7 linked regions of the Homo sapiens genome follow. Changing the gene in region 5 together with the main gene of any one other region gives a genetic interaction. Each region holds a gene or a part of one and is shown on either strand. Other genes may lie near its edges.

Region 1 (3,500 bases), on a different chromosome or scaffold from region 5:
TCTGCTATGCTAGTGGAAATGAGAGCACATTCATCCTTCTCCTCCTTGCTGGTTGAGGCAAGAGGACTTTCAGCTTCTGGGGGCGCACTGGGCATAGGCCCCTCAAAGTCGGCGGTGCTTATCAAGACTGGACCTGTAGCCCTTTCTTCCACTGCTGCAGCAACCGGCTGAAGACTTTCAGCACACTTGATGGTTGTTGCACTGGAGATAGGCAATTCGAATTCTTCCCCTATGCTTGTGGAAATCATGGCACACTCATCTTTCTCTTCACTTCTGCTGGCAGTGAGTTGGCTGTCATCTCCTGAGACTGCACTGGGCATGGGGGCCTCAAATTCTTCTGTGGTTACTCTGGTACCTTCCATATTTTCTTCAGTTCTCAGAGCATCTGAGAGACCTCCTTCCACATCTGTAATTGCGCTTACCTGAGGGGTGTAATCATTTGTGGTACTGGTGGAAATAATCAAAACTTTGCCTTGATTTTTACCCCCTGCTAAGCTATTCTGGTTGGTAATATCACCACTGGCTGTAGTTGCCATGAGACCATCACACTCTTCATTTTCTACAGAGGTGATGATGTCCTCATCTTCTTTTTCACTTGGTGATGTGTGAGCAACTTCACATTCTGGGACTTCACCAGATACAAGAACATCGTAACTACCCCCGACCAGGCCAGTGGAAATAGTGGTATCTTCAACTTTTTCGAGCTGACTGTCACTTTGATCAGATGCAGCACTAGTCATAGGACCCTCACAACCTCCTGGAACTGGTGTCACTTCATCCTTTCCTGAGACTGCACTGGTCACACTGCTTTCTACAATCCCTTTTGCACTGGAGCAGATATCTGTGTCTTTACTTCCTTTCTCTGTGCCACTCATGCTGTCAACATTATTTTCATTTGCATTCATGATGGCAGCTCCAGCCTCAGCTTCCACATGCTCTACCACAGTACCAATCTGACTGTCCCCTTCTGCACTTTCACAAATCAAGACCCCTTCACTTTCTTCTCCTAACCCTGTACAAGTTGAAGCATGCCCAATTTCATTTCCTCTTCCAGTACTAGTCACAACATCCTCCCCTTCCTCGTCTTCCTCTTTTGCGCCTGTGCTAGTCACAATGCCTTCATCATCACAAGGACCAGCAGCAACTAATGGTACATTAGTGCCTTCTTTGGCCACTGTGCTGTCCATTGCACTCTCTCCATTTTCTTCCGATTCAGAACTTATAGCAAAGCCTTCGCTGCTATCTTCTGAACCTGTGCAACTTGCTGGCCCCTCTCCATCTTCTGTTATCCCCGTGCTGGTGACTGCACTCTCACCTTCTGTACCATCATTCACAGAACCATCTCCTTCTTGGCTGGCACTTGTTCCTGGTGGTGCATCATTATCTCCCAGGACAACACCTGCACCTGTAACCATGCGTTCCTCCCGGGGCCCTGCTCCAGTTACTGAGCAGATCACAAAGTTATCACTTCTGCCTTCTGCTCCTGTACATGTCACAGTGCCCTCTGTTTCTTTTTTGGGACCCATTCTCATCATATTTCCCTGGGAGCCATCCACCTCTTCACTGCTTATAGATCCTGCTCTTATCTCTGTTCCAGCACTTGTAACTGCTCCATCACTTTCAACTTCACTAATAAAAGTAATAGTTCCTTCAACTATTTCTGAGTCTCTACTTAAAGAACCATCACATTTTTCTTCAGAGCCTGCACTGGTTACAGCATCATCCTTTTCCTCTGTCACAACGCTATTTACATTGGCTTCGATTTTAACTGCATGCACAGCCAGTAGGTCTGCTGCTCTGTCCTCAGATTCAGCCACAGCACACTCCCCACTTTCCCCTTCCTTAGTGCTTGTGAGGAAGGTTTCACTTTCAGCAAATCCCTCTGTGACAACAGCCCCACCTTCTTCAGCTGCAGCAAAAACAGTGCATTCACTGGCTTCTGCACCAACATGAAGAGGATTATTTCTGGAATGTGTTCCTATTATGAGGCCTTCATCTGCCTCAATGCTGGTGCAAGGCAAAGCCACCTCACTTTGTCTTGTTTCTGAAGAAGTGGTTGTGGCAGGCCCAGCCTTCACTGGACTTAAGGTGACATCTTTGTCCTTCCCTTCAGTACTAGTGGCAACAGAAGTCTTTTCTGCTCTCCTAGGCCCAGTTGCCACATCCTCAGTTTGTCCGTTCCTTTGGTGTAAAACAGAGGGTGCAGAGCCACTTCCAGCACTGGTGTCTACCTCACTGTTTTCATTCCTTCTTTCAACATCAATTGATATGTCTTTTACTTTACCTGGGCTTCTTTTATGCTTAAGTTTGACAGTTTCAGCATATTTTTCTGTATTCAGGCCTACAACATGATCAACAGCAATGCCATCCTTCTTGCCATTCTCTACTGTTGCTTTAATTGTCTGCTTTAAATTGGGCTCTGCATTTAAGTCATTTTCTTTCTTGGCCATGTCCACTAAGCCACCTTCTTTGGTAATATTCTCATTTTCCACAATCACGCCCGTTAACTTACTTCCAAGAGGCATGATTACCTTTCCTTGTTTACCATCCAATAAAGTAGCCTGGTGAGCTTCTGGAATGTGTCTTTTGCTAGTGATGCTTGCTTTTGCTGGTGTATCTACTGTGAAACCTTCACCACCTTCTTTGCTGTCACTTGTCTTAAGGACTTCTGATTCCCTAACAGTCAGACTTTGGTTAGGGAGAGCAGAGTGATCCGCAGGGGAGGTGCTGGCTGTGCTACCTTCCAAAACAGTTCTTTTGTCAAACAGAGGAATTACATCTGGATCATACGATTCCCTCAGAGGCACAACAGTCACTGAACTTAAGGATGGTGAGGAGTCTAAATTTGTGGAATGTTCAAGAGTGGCATCTCCTTGAGCAACATGTTCTTCAGCAGCTGTGTTTTTCAAATTCTTCTGTACCCTATCATTTTCTGATGGGGCACTCAGTAACATTCTATGAACAGTTTCAGAATCTATATTCACTTCAGTAGTTCCTCTATGAATGGGTTCTTTCTCCCCAGGGTTCATTTTGGACACAGCACTTTGTATATGCATTTTCTTGGTCAAGGTGCTTCTATGATCGGCATGCTTTTCAGAATTACTATTAACTCCTGTTCCACGGCCTGGCTTATAAGCTGGAGCTGTTGCTTTTGAATCTGCTGTGCAAGTTCTCAATTCATCCTTTTGAACAGTGGCAGAAGTTTTTTGTTTCATATTTTCAGAGTCAATGTCTTGCTGAGAATTATTATTGCGGTTGTCTTGGGTTTTAGATACTTCAAACACATTTTCAACACCTGGCTCAGAATCAATTTCCATTGGCTCTTGTTCAGGGATCAATGTCATATCACCACTCTTTTTTGGTCTCTGAAGGGAGGAACCGCTGGGAGTGCTCAAAGTGTTTGCTGCTAATTTTTCTTCTCCTTTGGCCATTTCTTGTGACAAGCTTCCTCTCCGATTTTCGCACAACCTTCTACTTAATTTCTTTTCCATGAGTGAACT
Region 2 (3,500 bases), on a different chromosome or scaffold from region 5:
AACCCAACTATTGTGTTGCCTTTCAGAGTAAAAGGACAATAAAACTCCTTCATAGATTACAACATTTCAGGGAATGACTGAATTTTTGACTTGCTACACAGTTCTTTCTACAAGTACTTTCACTTTCATCAGTCTCTCACCACTTATAAACAAGAGAAAGCACAACACTTTTTTAAAATATTAAGTAAAAGTTATATATTCGCTGTGGTAAATTTGGAAAAAAGAATAATCAACTAGAGTCCTGGAACAGAAATAAGTCCAGTTAACAATTTGGTGCATAAAACTTCATTTTTCCTGTGTATTCTTTCAATCATTTCAGCCATTAGTCTACAATTTTTTATTGAATCCTTACTATTTTGTGTGGTAGGCAGTGATAAATAAAAGTTTTTTGTGTTCTCACAAAGTGAATTCATGTAGTACATAATGTTTTGTAGCCTGCTTCTTTTTTTTTTTCACTGAAGCAAGTGGGGGTCAGAGTGATCAAACAAAATTCTACGGTTTAATAACTTTCACTCTAAAATATGGTCTTAATAGAGATGGCTTAGAACAAGCAAAAAGACGTCAGGGAGCTTTTGGTTTCTGTTTAGAACTCTATAGTCTCCAGATAGAGTTAGCGAAAATCAAATGGATGCAGGGCTGCCATGGGCCACTGGCAGCCCAGCTGGAGGAGTTGGAATCACTGCACTAGGCCCGAGGCTATAGCAGGGTCCTGGCCAGTCTTAGGCCAAGATAATGCCCAGGCTGAGGAGCATACGAAGGCCTCGACGAAAACCCAAAGAGCCCCGGCACCCCAGGAGAAGCCAGACCAGCTCTCAGTGAAGACAGAGGGTAGGAGCTACTGTCCAACTCCAGCGTCAGCCACTGGATGGTCCCGCCCATGTTTATCATCTGCTTCTTCTCAGATATGATCTGCCACTACATGTTCATCCTGGTACAGAGCGACAAGAAGCTCACCCAGGAGCAAGTATCTGACAGTTAAGTCCTAATTTGAAGCAGAGCCTTCAGTGAAAATGGAAATTACATTCCCAAAAAGTCTTTTTCTTGACATGAGAATATTACATCAACAACCCAGAGGATAAAAATATCACCACTTCCTCCCACTATGCTCTCAGGCATGATGAAAGGAAATATAACAAACGTCATCCCTATGATTCTTACTTGTGAATGGATCAACATTGACATACTCAGGCATTGTTGCAACCAAGGTCCTATTTCCACTGACCCTCTGTTTTTTGTTGTTGTTGTTTGTTTGTTTGTTTGTTTTGAGACGGAGTCTCACTCTGTTGCCCAGGCTGGAATGCAGTAGCACAATCTCGGCTCACTGCAACCTCTGCCTCCCAAGTTCAAGCGATTCTCCTGCCTCAGCCTCCCAGGTAGCTGGGACTACAGGTGCCTGCCACCATGCCCAGCTAATTTTTGTGTTTTTAGTAGAGACAAGGTTTCACCACGTTGGCCAGGCTGGTCTCGAACTCCTGACCTCAGGTGATTCACCCGCCTCGGCCTCCTAAAGTGCTGGGATTACAGGCATGAGCCACTGCACCCGGCCGACCCTCTGGTTTTAAGCCTATGCTGCAGCAAGTTATCAAACTACTCACATTAGATCCACCCTGAATGAGCTCTGCATCCTGGTATTTCCTCAACGTATTTGGGCTTCAGAGAATTTACTGTGATTCTAGGCCAAGATAATGGCAACTGACCAATAAGAAATGAGGCAGGAGCAGATGACCAGAGCAGCCATGGCCATGCCCACAGAAACCAGCAAAGCTTCCAAGACAAAGTAGAAAGTTCTGGAGCTGATGGGTCACCAGTGGACACCAGATGATGTCAAAGAGCTCATGGGCAAAGGCCTTCACTTTGAAGTTATGTTCAAAAAGGAGTTACAAGACCAAGTGCCATGGCTCACGCCTGTAATCCCAACACTTTGGGAGGCTGAAGAGGGCGGATCACTTGAGGCCAGGAGTTTGAGACCAGCCTGGCCAACGTGGTGAAACCCTGTCTCTACTAAAAGTACAAAAATTAGCTGGGTATGCTGGCGCTCACCTGTAATCCCAACTATTCGGGAAAACCACTTGAACCCGGGAGGCGAAGTTTTCAGTGAGCCACAATCGCACCACTGCACTCCAGCCTGGGCAATACAGTGAAGCTCTGTCACAAAAAAAATTTTTAAAAAAGCCTCTATTTTTTGAAGACCAAGTAGTAAAAATTAGCTCTGCCAGAACTTGGAGTAGTCCTTAACCTGCTAACTTGTGTTTGAGCTAGAGACTCTCAGAATTTAAAAAAAAAAAAAAAAAAAGGATAGCTAGGCACAGTGGCTCACACCTGTATTCCCAACACTTTGGGAGGCCAAGGCAGGAAGATTGCTTGAGGCCAGGAATTCAAGACCAACCTGGGCAACCAAGCAAGACCTTGTTCTCCACAAAAAAAATTTTAAAAATTAAAAAATTATCCAGGCATGGTGGCCTGTAGTCCTGGCTACTCAGGAAGCTGAATTAGGAGGATCATCCAGAAGCCAAGGAATTCGAGGCATGGCGCCACTGCACTGCAGCCTGGGCAACGGAGACCCTGTCACTAAAAAAATTAAAAATACATAAATATTAAAAAGTAAAAAATAATAATTTAAAAAGAAAGATATATGAGCCGCTGAGCATGCAGCAAGGATCATTCTTATCTGAGCCAGGTTTCCCTTTATGCCTGAAACTAGAAAAAATGCAGTGTGTGTGCTGGATGATTTACAGGGAAAGAGCCATTTAAAAAATGTTTTACATTTTCCTTCTGGTGACTCTAGAAATGAGAGGCAGAGAAAGGGGAAAACTTAAGCTAGCCAAAATATAAACATTTACCAAAAATTCAATCTTTGAAAAAGCATTATTATTTTCTGAAAGATTTCATGTAAACAAAGAAAGAAAAAGCATTATTAATTATAACTAATTATTATATGCAGTCTGACTTTTAATCACAGTAAGCTCCTATTTTGAGATCCAAGCACCCTGCATTTTTATATTTAATTGTTAGTATTTTTATAACTTTCTTTACAAAAGTAATAATTTTCATTACCAAAAATTTAGAAACTATAGATAAGCAAAATGAATCTCCCTGTATTGTTCATTCTGAGCCTACAGGATGACATGAAGAGCAAATACGTGAAAACTTCATTCACACAAACTCTTTTCAGACAGATTATCCAGGGCCAGGAAAAGTAGCAAACCTTCTATATATTTTAATACTATCCAGGGAAAATTAGTGACCCTGACATACTGCCAGATCTATTTCCCATCTAGGGAACTTTCAGGATCATCAAAGACAGGTTAAGTAATGGGAAGTTCTTGATCTAGAGTTGAGAATATTATCAAACCCACTGAAAAAAAATGAGTTTCTATACTGTATATGTCCAGTCAGTTGAACTAAAAACCCCAGATATTCTAGATAAGAGTTTACATAACTTTTTAAGAAGGCAGAGAGATCAACTGCTGGCAGACATCTAGGTGAGGGTTGCACAGGAA
Region 3 (4,156 bases), on a different chromosome or scaffold from region 5:
AGCCTCCCAAGTAGCTGGGATTACAGGTGCCTGCCACCATGCCTGGCTAATTTTTGTATTTTTAATAGAGACGGTGTTTCTCTATGTTGGCCAGGCTAGTCTCGAACTTCCAACCTCAAGTGATCCACCCACCTTGGCCTCCCAAAGTGTTGGAATTACAGGTGTGAGCCACCATGCTCAGCCTGGAGACACTTTTCATTGTCACAGGAGAGGTACTGCTGGCATTTAATGGGTACAGCCCAGATTGTGCTAAATGTCCTACAATGCACAGGACAGCCCCCCACAACAAAGAGTGATCCTGCCCCAAATGTCAGCAGTGCTGAGGTTGAGAAACTCTGATAGACAGCAGGCACATACTAAGTATCTGCCAATGAAACTATCTTATTTCAAATCCTTAAAACAATACACGAGGTATAAAGGAAATTAAAAAGTCTCATGACTGGCCAAACTCAAGTGAAAGTTAAGCCTGGAAACCTCCCAACACTGCTGTCCTCCTCCCCATCAACAGACAGCTGTTACTTCCCAACCTTGTGTCAAAGCATTCTACATTAACCAGACACCTGCAAAAGGCCAAAGGCCCCATGCAATCCATTGTGGGATGACTGCCCTCACAAGTTGCTCCTAAGGAACTCCTTTGCTGGCCCCTAAATCTTTGAAGATGAGTATCCTCCCATAAACAAGGACATGCCAACTGTAACTTTAGGACTGTAACCTCAGTCTAACTCCTTCCCTATTACTGATGTCTGTTAAACGCCACACTGACCATGTCCATTACAAGCTTATCCTCCCACATGCCAAACAAAGATGGGATGAGATAGTCCTTCCTCTCCTACCCTGAGACGTCTGCCTAATTAATTCTTCCTTTATTCCCTCTTTTGAATGTTTACTTTATTTTCTGAATAGTGTAGATATACTGGGCACGAATTAAAACCTCACAAGAATGTAACTACCTGCCACGAGGCCTACTGCACTTTTTCCTGCATGCTTTTTCCCCTTTTAATGAAATATATAAACACCAGCCTTCTGGAACCACTCCATCGAGCACAGGCCACAGATGTTTCTGTCACTTGTATTTTCCAGGGCACGCCCTCAAGCTCTGGCCCAATAAACCTCCACTGAGGCTCAGTTCAGTCTCTCCATTGCATTGACAGAGATAACTATTTTTCTCTTCATTTTTTTTTTTCTTTGAGACAGGGTCTCACTCTGTCACCCAGGCTGGAGTGCAGTGGCACGATCTCAGCTCACTGCAACCTCCACCTCCCGGGTTCAAGTGATCCTCCCACCTCAGCCTCGAGGGCGGGCATGCACCACCATGCTGGCTAATTTTTGTATTTTTAGTAGAGACAGGTTTCACCATGTTGGCCAGGCTGGTCTCGAACTCCTGACCTCAAGTGATCCATCCACCCGCCTCGGCCTCCCAAAGTGCTGGGATTACAGGCGTGAGCCACTGCACCCGGCCTGTCTCCATTTTTGATGAGGAACCAGAAGCTCAGAGAGGTTAGGACTATTGCTGAAGGTCACACCGCATGGATCCAAGAATCAAATCCAAGTCTCTCTCTGAACTCCTTCAAGATTCTCCCCCTTGGCCAGGTGCAGTGGCTCATGCCTGTAATCCCAGCACTTTGGGAGGCCCAGGCAGATGCATCACTTGAGGTCAGGAGTTCGAGACCAACCTGGTCAACATGGTGAAACTCTGGTTCTACTAAAAATATAAAAATTAGCCAGCCGTGGTGGCAGGCGCCTGTAGTCCCAGGTACTCGGGAGACTGAGGCACGAGAATCGCTTGAACCTGAGAGGTGAAAGTTGCAGTGAGCCGAGATCACACCACTGCACTCTGGTCTGGGCTACACAGCAAGACTCTGTCTAAAAAAAAAGGGGGAAAAAAAAGAAAAAAAAATATTGTCCTCCTGCCTCCTGCTTTTTAAGGTCCTTCTGAGCAGGCTCCCTGGGTCCTCTCATCCTGGAATCTGTGCTTCACAGCACTTAAAGCTGCGGTGGTTTAGTTGCTAGCTCACGTGTTTGTTTCCCCAGTAAAGCTAAACTCCACTAGAGCAGTGACCACGCCTGATCCCCAGCTGTGTCCCCAGGACAGCACCAAACCTACGAGGCGATCAACACATTTCTGCTGAATGAGTGGGAGAATCACTCCTCAAAAGGAAGAAAATTGTGTCAAGAAAGTAGCTGGCAGAGCCAGGATGTAAGTCCGAAGACTCCCCGACTTCGAAGCTTATCCCGTTTTTCTCTGCGGTCTGTTATTGTCACTCAAACCTCTGGCCCCGACCCTCTTAATTAATGTCCCTTTCGACTCCGCGCCGGTCAGTCTCCACCCTCCATCCGCGCCAGGTCCTTCGCGCTCGCCTTCTAAAGGCCTCGTTCCTGTCAGTCATTCCAAGCTCCGCCCTCACCCTGCCCACTTTCCACGCCCCGCCCCTTCTGGGCCCCACCCCTCTCCGAATACAATACCTTCTAGCCTGCCGCTGTCAGTCATTCTGCAGATCCCGCCCCCTCCCTCCCACGCCCCGCCTTTTCCGGGCCTGCGCCTCTAAGTTCCTGTTGAGGCCTTGCCCTTTTCTCACCCGTGTCCGGAGTGGCCCCCGCTCCAGAAGCGCACAGCCGCTGGTTGGGGCATCCCTGACATGAAGCCCCTCTGCCCGCCTGGGCGCTGTCGGCCCCTGGACAGTCTGCGCAGAGACAAGACCACAGTTAGAGCAGCTCCCGACACTTTCGCCCCGCGACCCACGCCCCCTCCGCGAGCTTACCGTGAGGCACCTCCTCCATTCCGTCGCCTTTGCCGCCTTCGTGGTCACCGGAACCCGCTGTCGTACATTTCCGCCTTGTGGGCACAATCTGATTCTCCGACCGCGCGAAATAAGTCTCGGAAAGGGGGCTGTGCGCACGCGCGAACCTTGGGCCGAAAGACTGGGACTCAACGTCTGTTCCTTTTCAGAGATTTCCTATCATAAATACTTCTGCAGTGCATCTCCTAAGAACAAAGCCATTCTTCATGACATCAGTGCCATTTTCATACCCAAGAGATTTAATATCGATGCAGTACTAGCCAATGCAGTATTAGCCAATAGACAGTTTATATTTCAATTTCAGTTGTTAGACCCCCTCCCCTGCTGGATTCACTCACTGCCTGGAGTTATTTCTCTTCGGTCTCCTTTAATTCAGATCAGTCCTTCTTTTTTTAGGGGGGGTCTCATCACCTTGATAATTTTGACGGGTCCAGACCAGTTGTGTAATAGAATATCCCATATTCTTGATTTGTCTAATCCTCCCCTCCCTCTTGCCTTGTAATTAGATAAAGGTTAATTTTTCTTTTTTCCTGCAGAACACACTTGGATAATGTCAGTTTGTCCCGTTTTTGGTAATGTGAAGCTTGATCGCTTGCTAAAGGTGGTGTCTGCCCCATTTCTCCATTTAATGTTTCCTTCTTCCATTTGTAATTAACAGGTACTCTCTGGGACCATCTTCTTCTCTATCAGCCTTTCACTCAGTGATTTTAGCAGCATTTATATATATATATATAAAACTATAGATTATATATATGATAAATATATATCAGTTTTATACCCTCTCTTTTTTTCTTTTTTTTCGAAGACTCACTATGGATTCCTGGATTTTTTAAAATTGTCTTTTATAATCAATTATTATTCTTTCTGGTCGATTTTTTTTCCCCCAGATGTGGCCAGTGAAGCCCCTTCAAGACAGTTCTTATGTTCTTTGGGCACTAATCCAGCTTCTTTGAGCATTTTCTTGCTTTCTGATACAAGATGTTTCAGTCATCCCTTCTCCCTGCTGCAGTCATTTCTTCAGGGAGCCTTGGTTACTTTTTAGCAGACAACAGTTCAGAAACCAAGATGTGGATGCCACAAATGCTCATTGCTACTGGAGTGTCATTGCTCACAGGTTTGGCACCTGGAATATTAATGAGTGAACAAACTTTACCTAGCCCCAGACACTAAGAATATGGAAACGTTTATTTATTTATTTATTTTTGAGGCGGATTCTCGCTCTGTCACCCAGGCTGGAGTGCAGTGGTGGGATCTCGGCTCACTGCAAGCTCCGCCTTCTGGGTTCACGTCATTCTCCTGCCTCAGCCACCCGAGTAGCTGAGACTACAGGCCACCACGCCCGGCTAATTTTTTGTATT
Region 4 (3,500 bases), on a different chromosome or scaffold from region 5:
TTCCTCTAATTTAACATATTTTTGATAGCTATTTGAAAGTCCTTGATTGCAAATTTCAACATCTAGTCACTTACAGTTCTGTAATCTGCTTCTTTCTTGATTGTGAGTCACCTATTTCTGCCTCTTCATTTGGCTCATGTTTAATTGTATATCTGGCATAGACACTTGAGTACATATTTTCCTCCAGAGAGGGTACACCTTTTCTTCTATCAGGAAGATAGGATAAGGGGCTGATCACTTTGATTCAATTAGGAGTTGGGCTGGGTTGAAACTTTAATTTCATCTCACCTCTTAGTATAGGTGTCTTATTAGGAGATACATCTTGTATGTGTTACTGACACTCACACCCATACCCTACTCTTGCTAACAAGACTAAGGGATCTGATGACCACAATACTATTATGATGTCTCCCTGCTTTCCAGCCCATTCCCAGCTTCCCACCCAGTACACTCAGCCAAAGTCTTGTAAGGGGGAAGCATTAGGTGGGGAAAAACGAGCTATATGTTTGTGGTTCCTACAGATGACAATCTGTAACTCAAGTCCACAAGGTCATTGAAAGCCCTTCTAGTTTTTGCCTACCTCAGCAGAGTCCCTCTGATTATGCAAAGCTTGATCTTTCTTGTACCTTCTCCTCATACTCAGCAGATATGACCAGGGAGAAAGCAGCCACCGATACTAGGAAAGATTTGTCCCTCTCTTTTCTTCAAAGTACCACTTGAATTATCTAGTTGGTTTATTACCTGTCTCTACCCCTAGATTGTATACTTTTTGAGAATAGAGAGAGTTCTGGTCACTACTCTGTAGCCAGTGCCCATAAAGCTATGTTATCTCTAGCTATTTAATTTGTATTTGCTAAGGTTTTTTCCTGGGTTATTTCAAACACTGGGGTGGAATTGAACAGGGGATGATTTCGTTAAACAAGTAAGTAGAGGTTATTCCTAGAAGCCTGTATAAACACAGAAATGGCAGCAAAAAGTGAAGAAAGATTCTGGAGAGTAACCAGCTATTACACACACACACATACACACACACACACACACACACACACACACACACAGATTTGAGGAAAACTCAGTGGAAAGGCAAAGGAATCTCTACATGACAGTACCAAAGTCTTCATTGATTACATTATGTTCTATTCATTAATGTTGACATTACTGAGCCTTTATTATCAGGTATACTCATAAACATAATTTATTATTATGTTTAGTATATTTTTAACTAATGGTAAGAATGTATAATATGTTACATAAACATTTTCATCAATATAAAATCTTCAATAATTTAATGGAGAAATCTTTACTTTTCAGCAATAATTGTATAAAAACAAGTTCTCAACCACATTAGATAAATAAAACTTATTTCTGTATATGCAAACAATGAGAACTAGATTAAAGGGCCCAAATATTAATATAGGTATTTTATGACAAATTCAGTTCTTTTAAAGCTACTTTAAGGTTGTCTTGATGTCCTCCCAAAGCATAATATTTGTATGAATACCTTAATTGTTCCACATTTCATTATAAAATACTTTAGTTTTCTAGTAGCTATTGGAAAGCAAAGATAAATCATCAGAATTATTACAGATTTTATTCCTTTAAAAAAGTTCTTTTTTTTTTTTTTGAGACAGAGTCTCACTCTGTTGCCCAGGCTGGATGGAGTACAGTGGCGCAATCTCGGCTCACTGCAATCTCCCCCCCCCGGGTTCAAGCGATTCTCCTGCCTCAGCCTCCCAAGTAGCTGGGATTACAGGTACCCACCACCATGCCCGGCTAAATTTGTGTTTTTAGTGGAGATGGCGTTTCACTATGTTGGCTGGGCTGCTCTCGAACTCCTGACCTCAAGTGATCCGCCCGCCTTGGCCTCCACAGTGCTGGGATTACAGGCGTGAATCACCACATTCAGCCTAAAAAAAGTTCTTTATCAGGCCGGGTGCAGTGCCTCATGCCTGTAATTCCAGCACTTTGGGAGGCCGAGGTGGGCGGATCACGAGGTCAGGAGTTCGAGACCAGCCCGGACAACATGGTGAAACCCCATCTCCACTAAAAATACAAAAATTAGCCAGGTGTGGTGGTGCATGCCTGTAGTCCCAGCTACTTGGGAGGCTGAGGCAGGAGAATCGCTTGAACCCAGGAGGCGGAGGTTGCAGTGAGCCAAGATCGCACCATTGCACTCCAGCCTGGGTGACAGAGCGAGACTCTGTCTCAAAAAAAAAAAAAGAAAAGTTCTTTATCTAGATAAAGAAATGCTCTGCATTCTGAGTTCATTTTTATTAACTTTTTTAGTTACTAAATTAACACTTTCTATATTCAGGGCAACGTGGACTTACTCTAACTTTTTGCTTTTAGTTCGTGAAGTGACCGAACCTCTGAATTTAAATCCAGCTAAACGGCCTCGTCGACAAGACTGGGATGGAGAATTATATGAAAATGGCTCATTTTATTTTGCTAAAAGACATTTGATAGAGATGGGTTACTTGCAGGTTTGTACCTTCATTTTGCATAACCCTTTTAAGCGCTTTTGTAGGCATACTTTGAGTTCTAGGGAAGAAGTATGGTACAATTTCTTTATGATAAAGAAAAGTATCAACCTATAGAGGAAAGGTAATAGCCAACAACATTTGCTATCTGAGGCATTTATCCTGCAGGTTTACCCCAAAGTGATCTTTGGAATCCATTCAGTAAATATGCAAGGAATTCTGCTACAACGATAAAAAAATGAATCAAGTACTGGGTGTCTACACATGTCCTGGTACTCATATTATTCCACTCAAAACTACGTAATCCATGTTTGTGTTATAGTTATATTGTGGCTGTAGGGTTGAATAACTTCTATTGCTTTAAAAAGACAAATAATTTCATAGAGGTGAAAAGAGTTACAACCTGGGTGTCAGGAAACCCGGAATCTTTTTATATATATATATATATATATTTTTTTTTTTTTTTATTATACTTTAAGTCAACTGCCTCTTACTATGTAAGCTTGAATATGTATCATTTTATCTGTCCTGACTCTCATTTTCAAATAACAGATTTAATGTCTCTCTCATTTTAGAGCCTGCAACATGGTTGCATCATATATTTCTTAACTTGTTAATTTTAGTTATCATTATTATTTATTATTTACTGTGTACTTCGGAGTAGGTGAAACACTTTGCATATGTTATCTTATGTAATCTGCATAGCGAATGAATGAAGTGGACATTTCTACCCAGTTTTACAGAGGAGGAAAACTGCCTCACTGAAATATGAAGTAATTGACTCAAGGCAAAAACAGCTAATAAATGGTACTGTCAGGATTTGGATTCAGGTTCTTATGTTACTCAAGAAATAGCGGTTTTAAAGAGAGAGAGAGAAACCTCTCCATTGTGTAATAAAAATTCTAATGGGACTATTATTCTGAGCAAAAGAGAGAAAAACATTTTTACAAATCTTCTGGTCAATGTGTAGGCAAACTATAGACTAGCTGTTTAGTTAAATTTAAGTGTTCAGAAAAATTG
Region 5 (3,500 bases):
GAACTGTTTAAGTATTAAGGGAATTTTTAAGAAGTAAGGGAATTTTTTCTAAATCCCAGATGGGGTTTTTTGTTTGCCAAGTTCCTTCTTATTTCTTGTAATCTTTCCTTATTGCATGTCTGTGTTGGGCTAACAATATATTAATACAGAATGTTTATGCTTTGATTTTTATATATTTAGTTGTTAACTATCGTTGTTTATCTGTTCTGACATAAGCTTATGCAAAGTAGAACCGGTTCTTATTACTTATATTCCCTTTTTCAATTATAAAAGTTTAAAGTACTATAATATATCTACAGACATGCATAAAGATAATATTATATTGGGGTATTTGATTATTGGAATTAGTTAATTGGTTATGATTGACCTTGAATGCTGATTTTTTTTTTTTTTTTTGAGACAGAGTCTCTTTCCATGTCCCGATCTCGGCTCATTGCAACCTCCACCTCCCGGGTTCAAGCGATTCTCCTGCCTCAGACTCCCGAGCAGCTGAAATCACAGGCACCCGTCACCATGCCCTGCTAATTTTTGTATTTTTAGTAGAGATGGGGTTTCACTATGTTGGCCAGGTTGGTCATGAACTCCTGACCTCAAGTGATCCGCCCGCCTCAGCCTCCCAAAGTGCTGGGATTACAGGCGTGAGCCACTGCGCCCGGCTATGATTTAATACAAGTGTTTTGAAAGCAGAAAATATTAGAGTCCTAAAAGTTAAATATGATATAATGAAAATAGTTAGAAGTTCAACAATATATAATAAAGGAAACACATATTAGCATCCAACTTACCAAGAAAAATGTCTATTGGTTGGAATCTATTTACTTTACTGATTTGCTTTAAACAGATTAGAACAGAATAAATGTATAGACATGGTTTAAGGATTAGTGAATGGCAGGTACTGGTGCTTGAAGCATTATATTATATTGAGGAAATATACACACCTCTAACTGGGAAACTTAACTGCTGTAAAGTTGATGCACTTATACAGTAACCAATTTGGGGCTCATAGGCGATGGTATCTAAACATTCATTCCAATCTTGCACATTAGTAACAGGACAATCCTGTAGATGGGTGACAAGGTCTCCCACAAAAAGGCCTCTGGGTCCAATGGCAGGAGAGTCCTTGGGAAGAGGGTAAAACCAAATCAGATAATGCATGAAGACAAGCTATAATTAATCTGAGCAAATAATAAAGACACTGAGTTAATTAAGTGAATAGTTTGAATGCAGAAAATAATCCAGCTTTGAATTCAAGACATAGTCCTAGAAAATTAAAATAAAACCCAACAATTATAGTTGCTTTTCCCAAATTCTCCAAGATTTTGAATTTTTCACAATTGAAAAAAAGCCGACTTGCTGACTGTTAAGACTAAAATGATAAAATTTTTTCCCAAACTGCCAATTAAAAATTTTTTGGTGAAAGTATCATCAGACTGTCTTGCCTTTCCTATATCCTTAACGCATAAAACAATAAGACACATCCTTTCATATCCCCAATATGCAGGCAATACCATCAGTACAATGTATATGTAAGCCAATTGCTCACAAAGGTAATTTTCCTCTTTCTAATGTCTGAATACAAGATTTGATGCCATCATAGCAGTTATTGTCTAAGGGAGTGAAATACAGAGTTGAAGACATTAACTTAAACTCCTATGAAATGTTACGGCTGGACAGCCTAGGTTTCATCTTTCTTACTACTTAGGAGGCGTAAAGACATTTGACTCAAAAGCAGAGATATAAAAATAAACAGAAAAGGTAAATGATGCATTTTACCAATAAACTACAGGTAGAAAATCTTGATACTATCTTCCTAAGTACAGCATCAGGACAAAAACAATTTTCATGAAACTTTAAAAAAACCAATGTGTTTCCCAACATTATTTGTTAGATTTGAGAGGACTACAGTAATTTCTTCAGAAGAAACTAAGCATTTTGTATATGAAGAGATCTTGAATAAAAGTTTCTGAATAGATGCTAGGTATTACATCACAACATCTGATGAAAGAATGCCCTGAGTAATCCATTATTTACCTCAGCAACTTCAGTGATGAGCACCCCAACTCCAGTGTAGTAAAATGGCAAGAGAATTACTGGGAGGAGAACAAGAGCTAAAATACCCAAGAGTGCAAGGACAAAATTATGCCAGATACCTGGAAAGAGAGGAAAAAAAGCAATAAGCTCAACCGGGGGCAGGAATGATATAAGTAGCTGGACCTCACAACACTTGGGCATTCTGATAAATTAATAAAGTGATCAGAAGAAGCAATGAGGCAAAAATATCTACTTATTAGTAGAGCAGACAGATGTTCAATTATTAGTTACTTTCATTTTAGATATTGAAATCTAAAATGGGCATGTTAATACCACACTAGGAAGACCACATGCTAACATGATTTGATACTGATAGAACTAATATCTTCCACTAATTATACTCTCTTTTCAGAAAATGTATATATCACTAATTTAAACATATTTGTGATCTTTGAAAGAAACCTCATATACATTCAAATAAAAAAAACTCTTGCTAAACAGGGGTACAGAAACTCAAATGGTACTTGGAAAAAGGAGGTTGTTTTAAGAACTAAACTATTATGCAGAACAATATTGGTGGAACAAACCGAGCATATATTTTACATCACGTCACAGACTATAAAGCAACAAACCATAAGAAAACTGTCGGCCAGGCACGGTGGCTCACGCCTGTAATCCCAGCACTTTGGGAGGCCAGGGCGGGCGGATCACGAGGTCAGGAGATCAACACCAGCTTGGCCAACATGGTGAAACCCTGTCTCTACTAAAAATACAAAAAAATTAGCCAGGCATGGTGGCGCGCGTCTGTAGTCCCAGTTGCTTGTGAGGCTGAGGCTGGAGAATTGCTTGAACCCGGGAAGCGGAGACTACAGTGAGCTGAGATCGTGCCACTGCGCTCCAGCCTGGGTGACATAGCACAGAGCAGGACTCCGTCTCAAAAAAAAAAAAAAAAAGAGAAAACCGTCTTTATTATTTTTTTTTAAACCCTAAAATTTAGGTACTCAAATTCATTAATCTTTTCCATTATATATTCAACCTTTGCAGCTGTGCAAAGGAAGACTTTCTCGCCCCTAACATTATGTAAGTAATCACTCTTTTTGTGGAGAAGGATGGTTTAAATAGTTTTATTTTTACATTTAAATCTCTTACCATTTGGAATTTATTTTTGTGTATGTGTGTGATTTTTACATTTAAATCTTTTACCATTTGGAATTTATTTTTGTGTATGGTGTGACTGATACATATAACTAATTTTATTCAAATGTTTAGCTAATAATTACTGAGCAGTGCATTCTTTCCCTACTAAATTAAATGCAACTTTTAATTTACAATACATTTTCATCTATTCTTTGGCTTGCTTCTGGAATTTCCATTCTTTTCCACTATTCCAGTGACAATAAAGCTGTTGCTGGTAGTAATATTTCAGTATTTAGTAAATAAATACTTTCAATTTGTTTATTTTGGTTATT
Region 6 (3,500 bases), on a different chromosome or scaffold from region 5:
ATTATAATAGGTCTTACTGAAAGATATCAGTGATCAAGTCTAACAAACTACTTTTTGTTTATGACCATTCAAATCATAGTATCTTTGTTAAAGAAGTAATCCCTCCCCAGCCCACACACATAGCAGTTGGGGCAGAGGGATGTATGCAGAGAGAAAGATTTATACCAAGTCATGCATACATGACTCTAGAGGGAGTTAGCAAGTCACAAGTATGGGGCTTCAGCAGTTCAGGTCTCTCGTACCACACTCCAGAAAGGACTTTAACAGTGATCTAGTCCAGTCCTTTTGATCGGCTCACAAAGAGACTAGAACTCAGGGAGCTGGGGTGACCTGCCTGAAGTGTCTGACTGGACACTTCTCCCCTCTGCCAAGTACTGAACAACCCTTTTAGATTGCAGGAGACAAATTACAAACTAGGGGCAGGGTTATACATAGTGCACATGAGAAGATTGTTTTTCATAAGCCTGATCTATACATGCTTTCCCAAACCACTAAAGCCTTCATACTAGGTTTGGCCAGGTGTTCTCAGTTCCAGAAAAGTCTTGAAGAAGCTTGCAGTTTCCTTCCAAATGCAGAAGCATACCATAGCAGCAGTGGCAGTGGTTTTGCAGGAGAGGCCTTGATGACTTGGAATACCTAGGAGGAAGGAGTGGAGGGCTGAAGTTGACAGTTGTCTCAATATTTCCGGTGCCATCTTCGCTGTAAGGGCATGAGCACAACATTCAGAGGCCGCCTCCCACTAGACGTTGGCTGCACGGGAAGGATTTTCTTGCATGCTGCGTGACTGTATATGGTTGTTATGCTTATGATATTTAATCTTTTTTATTTTAGCAGTGAACTGTTACCTGGTTATGTCACTTGATTTAGTTAGGGTGTTTCCATTTGTTATTTTTTTTAGTTACCTTTTTTTTAAGTTGCATTATTCTGTTTTCCTTTTTTTTCCATGTATAGTAAATATTTTCATTTGCATTTTTTTTTGAGTAAGCCCCTTGTTTTGACCTCATTTTAGCATTCCTTTTAAAATTTTGCTTCCTTTTACAAAACACTCATCTCTGTGTCTTGTAACTGAGCATCATGAGACATATTCCAAGGCAAGAGTGACCTCTGAACCATCTCTCCTGACTCCATACTCCATACTCTCCTGATTCCATTTTTTGAATGGGAAAGACTCAGGACATGACTCTCCTGTCTTGGCAATGCTAGAGGAAGAGGTGGTGGCCATTCAAGCATCTTTAATCCTCTTGGTGAAAACTTCCGCACCCCTATTTTTTTCAGCCGGCTGGAACGGGCTGTGGCTCAGCCTACCCTTCCCCCCCTTCACATGCCATTTTTACTAAATACACTTACAGTGAGTATGCTCCTGGCTTTTGTGGTTTGCTCCTCCCGAGTCAGATTTCCTTTAGCTAGTTTCAAGTGCCAGTTTCCAGGAGTTAGGAGATATCTCTGTTTCCATTGCTAGGGTTTATTTAGTCGACGGAAAGAGGACCCTGCTTTACCCACACAGGTTCCTCTGCAGTACAATGAGCTGAAGCTGGCCCTGGAGAAGGAGAAAGCTCGCTGTGCAGAGCTAGAGGAAGCCCTTCAGAAGACCCGCATCGAGCTCCGGTCCGCCCGGGAGGAAGGTAGGGGCTCACTCTCTCCAAAATGCTCAAGGATGTGGAAAAGGCAGAGGATTGATCTCAGTGAGATCAGCCAAGACTAACTAGCTCAGTGTCTTCGTTTATGGCCCATACGCTTTCAGACCAGACATCCCATGTCTGAAAAACGTATGGCCCCTGTGCATTGCCAAGTTGATGTGACGCATATTCTTTTGGTCTTGGGTCCTTGAAAGATAGCCCAGGGACATTCGGCTTAGTTTGGTCCTCTAGGCGACCCAGCTAACCAAAAGGCATTGTCCTGGTCTCTCTGCAGCTGCCCACCGCAAAGCAACGGACCACCCACACCCATCCACGCCAGCCACCGCGAGGCAGCAGATCGCCATGTCCGCCATCGTGCGGTCGCCAGAGCACCAGCCCAGTGCCATGAGCCTGCTGGCCCCGCCATCCAGCCGCAGAAAGGAGTCTTCAACTCCAGAGGGTACGTTGGAGTTGTATGGAAATTTCTTTTAGTCGACTAAGACATGTGGGCATATGGTAAAAATTACAAGTAATACTAGGGGTTAAAGATTAAAAAGTCAGTCTTGGCCAGGCACGGTGGCTCACACCTGTAACCCCAGCACTTTGGGAGGCCGAGGTGGGCGGATCACCTGAAGTTGGGAGCTCAAGACCAGCCTGACCAACATGGAGAAACCCCGTCTCTACTAAAAATGCAAAATTAGCTGGGCATGGTAGTGTATGCCTGTAATCCTAGCTACTCGGGAGGCTGAGGCAGGAGAATTGCTTGAATCCGGGAGGCGGAGGTTGCGGTAGCCGAGATTGCGCCATTGCACTCCAGCCTGGGCAACAAGAGGGAAACTCCATCTCAAAAAAAAAAAAAAAAAAAAGAAAGAAGTCAGTCTCCTGGCTCCCCATCCTCAGTGTTGGTTCATATATGTGACCACATGTCTATACCATTCATGTATCTTACATTGTGTGATTATATTTAAAGAATATGAGAAAATAGGCTGGGCATGGTGGCTCACGCCAGTAATCCCAGCACTTTGGGATGCTGAGGCAGGCGGATCACCTGAGGTCAGGAGTTTGAGACCAGCCTGGCCAACATGGTGAAACCTCGTTTCTACTAAAAATACAAAAATTAGCTGGGTGTGGTAGCATTCTCCTGAAGTCCCAGCTACTTGGGAGGCTAAGGCAGTAGAATCATTTGAACCCAGGAGGTGGAGGTTGCAGTGAGCCGAGATCACCCCACTGCACTCCAGCCTGGGTGATAAAGTGAGATTCCATCTCAAAAAAAAAAAAAAAAAAAGAAAAGAAAAGAAAAAAGAATATGAAAAAATAAGCACATCTCTCTCTCAGGCCTTTTTTCTTTTATAAATATTATAGTGGTGGCTCACGCCTGTAATCCCAGCACTTTGGGAGGCTGAGGTGGGCGGATCACCTGAGGTTGGGAGTTCGAGACTAGCCTGACCAACATGGAGAAACCCTGTCTCTACTAAAAATACAAAATTAGCCGGGTGTGGTGGTGCATGCCTGTAATCCCAGTTACCTGGGAGGCTGAGGCAGGAGAACTGTTTGAACCTGGGAGGCAGAGGTTGCAGTGAGCCAAGATAAAGCCATTGCATTCCAGTCTGGGCAACAAGACTGAAACTCTGTCTCAAAAACAAAAACAAGAAAACGTAAGCTTATCTTTCAGGCCTTTTTTCTCTTATAAATATCATAGCACACTACAGTATACACTGCAAGACACCTTCGTTTCATTAAAGTGCTATCTTAGAGGTTTCACATTAGTACATAAGGACCTACCCCATTCTTTCAGAGAACCACACAGTATTCCGTGGTGTGAGCATGCAATTCACCTGTTAAGCCAGGCTCCTGTTGATGGCCATTTAGGTTGTTTCCAATCCC
Region 7 (3,500 bases), on a different chromosome or scaffold from region 5:
GCCGAGTGCCGCTCTGTTCCAGGCTAAATGTTATCGTGGTGTCCAGCAGCCGCCGACCTGTCTCCACGAGGTATAGGTTAATGGTGTAGGTCTGATTGAAGCAAGCCAGAGAGTCCTAGGAGTACAGACAGCACGTGTCAACTACAGGTATCCCCCGAAAGCAAAGCCCACCAAAGGAAGTCCAAGGATTGGGGGCAAATACCCTAGAGAAGGAGCCAGGCCAGAAGGGGAAATATATGCAAAGGAGAATAAAAGAGAAAAGCAAGCTAAATCCTAAGGCAGAAATAAGGTGCCTGAGTAAATAAATGAAATTACAACTACCATACTTGTCTTGGAAGCCAGTACAGAGTAGCAGAGACTTCTGAGAGAGAGGTAGGGCTGAGCAAGGTAAGACTGAGCAAGACAGGAGGCAGGGAAACGCTTAGATGGAAGCCACAGCAGGAACCTATGCCTCCAGCCAGGGGCTCATGCCTCTGCTACAGGGTAACTGCACAGAGTACTACTCAACTGTGCCAGCCAGGATCCCAAAAGAAATGGGGACGCTGAGGCCCAGAGGAGAAAGTGGCTAGAAACAGACTCTAGGGATTCTACCTCCTAATCTCCCGGTAAAATGAGATTAAGAGAAACATCATTTAATTTACAGTACTTAGGAAACCTCATTTGAAGCTGGGAACTCTAGGACCTGCTCCTAACCAAAGCTCTTCCCCCAACTCTCTTTGGTGGCCTCCTGCGTCTCTAGGTCTGGCATACTGCCCAGTGCCACACCATACCTTTGAACTAGACTTCTCCGAAAAGCTCCCCATTGACCCATCTTCAGAACTGCTACTTTTCTGCTATGAGAAAGAGAAGGACAGGAGAAAATTCAGCCAAAGGGTCACTTCCCAGTCACTGAAATGAAGCTTTTGTTTTTGTCTTCTTAGCACTTGAGAGAAGACAAAGCTCATTTCTCACCCCTGCCCACAAAGCCTATTCAACCCTTAATAGCCCCATATGAAAGTAAGGTCATCACATTAGGGTCTCGTTCCTGGGGAGAAATGGGGTGTGCAGAAAGCTCTATAGTTGAGGCAAGACCTCACTTCTCAACAGCCTCCTGCCCGCTGGGTTCAAACTGACCAGGTCAATGTGCCCAGACTTCTGATTTTCAGGGTTCCTAGTGGAGACCAGGAAGGAAAATCCCAAGTGCTGACTGTTGTTCTCAATACTCACCACTTCATTCCGACAGGCCATGACTGCAGCCACCGTCTTCTCCCCAGTGGTGGCAAAGCTCACTAGGGCAGTCTGGGGGAAAAGCAAGGCATCAGCTCCTAAATGGGACCAGTACTAGCCAGCTGCCTTACAGAGGGTCACCTCTCCAGGGAAGGCCCTTGGCCTTAGAGTTGAAAGTGCTCCCCACTTTGGAGCAGAATGGTCAGGCATTTAAGAGCAGAGGGAGGCCTCAGTTGCATCTACAGCTGAAAACAGAACTCTCCCTACCTCCAACGCAGGCACAGGTCAATCTTAAATCCCATGCTGCTTGTTCTTACTATCTATGGGGAAGCTCTCATTTATGTCCCCATATTTCCTTTGGACTAAGGAAGGCACTAGTTTTGCTCTAAAGATCCTTTGTAATACTCAGGAGGAAATACACCATTTCTATGATAAGGCTACCTACCCCCTCTCAAACCACTTACGGGAAGGTGTCATCAATCTTGGGCCTAAGAGCAAACGTTTCCAGATTCAAAAGCACTGCCTTCTAGCATCCATGTCTTGGAGAGATCTCCTGAATCCTAGCAAACCATGTTGCCTGCAGTTACCTGTGGGAAGTTTTTAAGCAAACTCAGCGTTCCATAATGGTACTGCAGCAGAGCATAGTGGCTTGGGGACAAGTGCAGGAAGAACTGGGCCCGGGAAGCGTCCACTGGGTTGGGCTGGGTAGGCAGGACCCGGGGTTGGAATCCACTTCCAAATTCTAAGTCGAGAGACTGGAAGGCAAGAAGGAGGAGGATTATGGCTAACAGCTGACGACTCCCTGACCCATCCCAGGCTCACAACCTCTGCCCTACTTTGCCGGGGGAAGTAACTGGGCCATGGCAGGTGGCTCCAAATGCTCCAGTTCAAGTTCCCCAAAGAGGAAAGTGACTGATTTCCTCTTACACCAGTTCAGCCAGAGGCCTGAATGGCTTCCACTGCTCAGGAAGAGTCTAGGAGAAAGACCCTCCAGGGGAATCATGCCAAACTTTCTACTCCCCGCAGGAAATGCCTCAGGCCAGAAGAAGCAGTGGCAGCCTCTCACCTGCAGTGGGATCTGTCTCAACTCCCATTCCGTCTCCAGAGCCAAAGTTTGGAGGGAACGTGAGCTCGGGTCAGGACACACCAGGACAGCCTCATCCACCACACCACAGGCTCCAGACAGGTGCTGCAGCCACGGAGTTGAAACCCTAACCTACAGAAAAGTCATCGTTAACAGGAAGCTCGTGAAAGATTTTTACATTTCCCTCTCAGCCCAACAGCAATATTGCTGCCAGCATCCCACTGGGGGTCCTAAGCTCAAAGGTTCTTCATGGTTGGTTGTATAGGAGTTCTTCCTGTCCCCTGAAACCCCACCCTCCAACCTCCTGAGAGCCTTCAAAGTTGGAAAAAATATCAGGATTTTCTTTCTGGTCACTGGAAAAATATATCCGATAATTTTAAATACCTGGCACTTCAGAATCAGCACTTCTTTACTATATTTGCCATATGTGGTGTCCTACTGTGATTTCACAGCACTGTAAGATACTTACAGGCAGAGACTAGATCTATGTAATTTTTTAGCCACCCCAGAAGATAACACATGCAAATATGAGTACTTTAAATAGAGGCCTAATGGGAAGGCAGCTGGCAAGTGACCAGAATGAGGGAGCATAAGTAGCTTTTGCATCTGCCCAGCCAAGTTCCCTGTTCCCCAGTACAAAGAAATCTATCAAGTCTCCCCCAACCCCACCTTATTCACAGGCTCCTGTCACCCTCCTGTACCTGCTGAACAATCTCTCCATCTTCCACATTAAACTTGACAATGTTCACATGGCTGAAGGGAACAACTCCGAGGGCCCACACCACCCCAGAGCCGTAAGAATACACCATCTGGTAGTGGATGCTGTCACTAAGAGAGGGAAGAAGAAACCGCAGCGTCAGCTTTCAACCCAGGACAGGATTATCCTCAGGGGCTGCCAGGCCTCAGCCAGATGTCACAAACTAGTAATTCCCAAATAGGTTTTGTTTGGCTCACACAGTTTGGGGGCTTTTGTTGTTGTTGTTCTTAATTTGAATTAGTTGTCAACATTTAGAAGATATTATACTTCACAATCAGATTTCTAAATTTTCCTACGGTTAGAAGATGTGGCAACACTAGGCCTAAATACAGAGCACCAATCAGGTGGGTAAGGCTGCCCCCTCCAGGCAGGCCAGGAGCACTGCAGCTCCCATCCAGCCAGTGTTGCTCATGGATATTTCATAACCCGCCTCATAGCATTTTCTTTGTTGTG

What was found.
Region 1: changes in MBTPS2 (region 5) and BOD1L1 together harm fitness more than expected from each alone (negative genetic interaction), as found in Homo sapiens cells (one large-scale study listed by BioGRID).
Region 2: changes in MBTPS2 (region 5) and CYB5B together harm fitness more than expected from each alone (negative genetic interaction), as found in Homo sapiens cells (one large-scale study listed by BioGRID).
Region 3: changes in MBTPS2 (region 5) and NUBP1 together harm fitness less than expected from each alone (positive genetic interaction), as found in Homo sapiens cells (one large-scale study listed by BioGRID).
Region 4: changes in MBTPS2 (region 5) and CMAS together harm fitness more than expected from each alone (negative genetic interaction), as found in Homo sapiens cells (one large-scale study listed by BioGRID).
Region 6: changes in MBTPS2 (region 5) and CIT together harm fitness more than expected from each alone (negative genetic interaction), as found in Homo sapiens cells (one large-scale study listed by BioGRID).
Region 7: changes in MBTPS2 (region 5) and EMC1 together harm fitness more than expected from each alone (negative genetic interaction), as found in Homo sapiens cells (one large-scale study listed by BioGRID).

Annotation. Positions count from the first base shown.
Region 1 is NC_000004.12:13,600,226-13,603,725, forward strand, and holds part of BOD1L1 (biorientation of chromosomes in cell division protein 1-like 1), read right to left. Parts: coding exon 1-3,500. UniProt on the Homo sapiens protein: Component of the fork protection machinery required to protect stalled/damaged replication forks from uncontrolled DNA2-dependent resection.
Region 2 is NC_000016.10:69,441,619-69,445,118, reverse strand, and holds part of CYB5B (cytochrome b5 type B), read right to left. Parts: intron 1-3,500. UniProt on the Homo sapiens protein: Cytochrome b5 is a membrane-bound hemoprotein functioning as an electron carrier for several membrane-bound oxygenases.
Region 3 is NC_000016.10:10,742,486-10,746,641, reverse strand, and holds the start of NUBP1 (cytosolic Fe-S cluster assembly factor NUBP1), read right to left. Parts: upstream 2,801-4,156; 5' UTR 2,779-2,800; coding exon 2,760-2,778; intron 2,682-2,759; coding exon 2,577-2,681; intron 1-2,576. UniProt on the Homo sapiens protein: Component of the cytosolic iron-sulfur (Fe/S) protein assembly (CIA) machinery. Required for maturation of extramitochondrial Fe-S proteins.
Region 4 is NC_000012.12:22,056,218-22,059,717, forward strand, and holds part of CMAS (N-acylneuraminate cytidylyltransferase), read left to right. Parts: intron 1-2,349; coding exon 2,350-2,483; intron 2,484-3,500. UniProt on the Homo sapiens protein: Catalyzes the activation of N-acetylneuraminic acid (NeuNAc) to cytidine 5'-monophosphate N-acetylneuraminic acid (CMP-NeuNAc), a substrate required for the addition of sialic acid.
Region 5 is NC_000023.11:21,867,117-21,870,616, reverse strand, and holds part of MBTPS2 (membrane-bound transcription factor site-2 protease), read right to left. Parts: intron 2,151-3,500; coding exon 2,032-2,150; intron 1,120-2,031; coding exon 939-1,119; intron 1-938. UniProt on the Homo sapiens protein: Zinc metalloprotease that mediates intramembrane proteolysis of proteins such as ATF6, ATF6B, SREBF1/SREBP1 and SREBF2/SREBP2.
Region 6 is NC_000012.12:119,716,821-119,720,320, reverse strand, and holds part of CIT (citron Rho-interacting kinase), read left to right. Parts: intron 1-1,459; coding exon 1,460-1,622; intron 1,623-1,911; coding exon 1,912-2,076; intron 2,077-3,500. UniProt on the Homo sapiens protein: Plays a role in cytokinesis. Required for KIF14 localization to the central spindle and midbody. Putative RHO/RAC effector that binds to the GTP-bound forms of RHO and RAC1. It probably binds p21 with a tighter specificity in vivo.
Region 7 is NC_000001.11:19,238,025-19,241,524, forward strand, and holds part of EMC1 (ER membrane protein complex subunit 1 isoform 1 precursor), read right to left. Parts: intron 3,119-3,500; coding exon 2,992-3,118; intron 2,681-2,991; exon of another isoform or gene 2,423-2,680; coding exon 2,273-2,422; exon of another isoform or gene 2,233-2,272; intron 1,962-2,232; coding exon 1,794-1,961; intron 1,279-1,793; coding exon 1,207-1,278; intron 834-1,206; coding exon 771-833; intron 116-770; coding exon 1-115. UniProt on the Homo sapiens protein: Part of the endoplasmic reticulum membrane protein complex (EMC) that enables the energy-independent insertion into endoplasmic reticulum membranes of newly synthesized membrane proteins.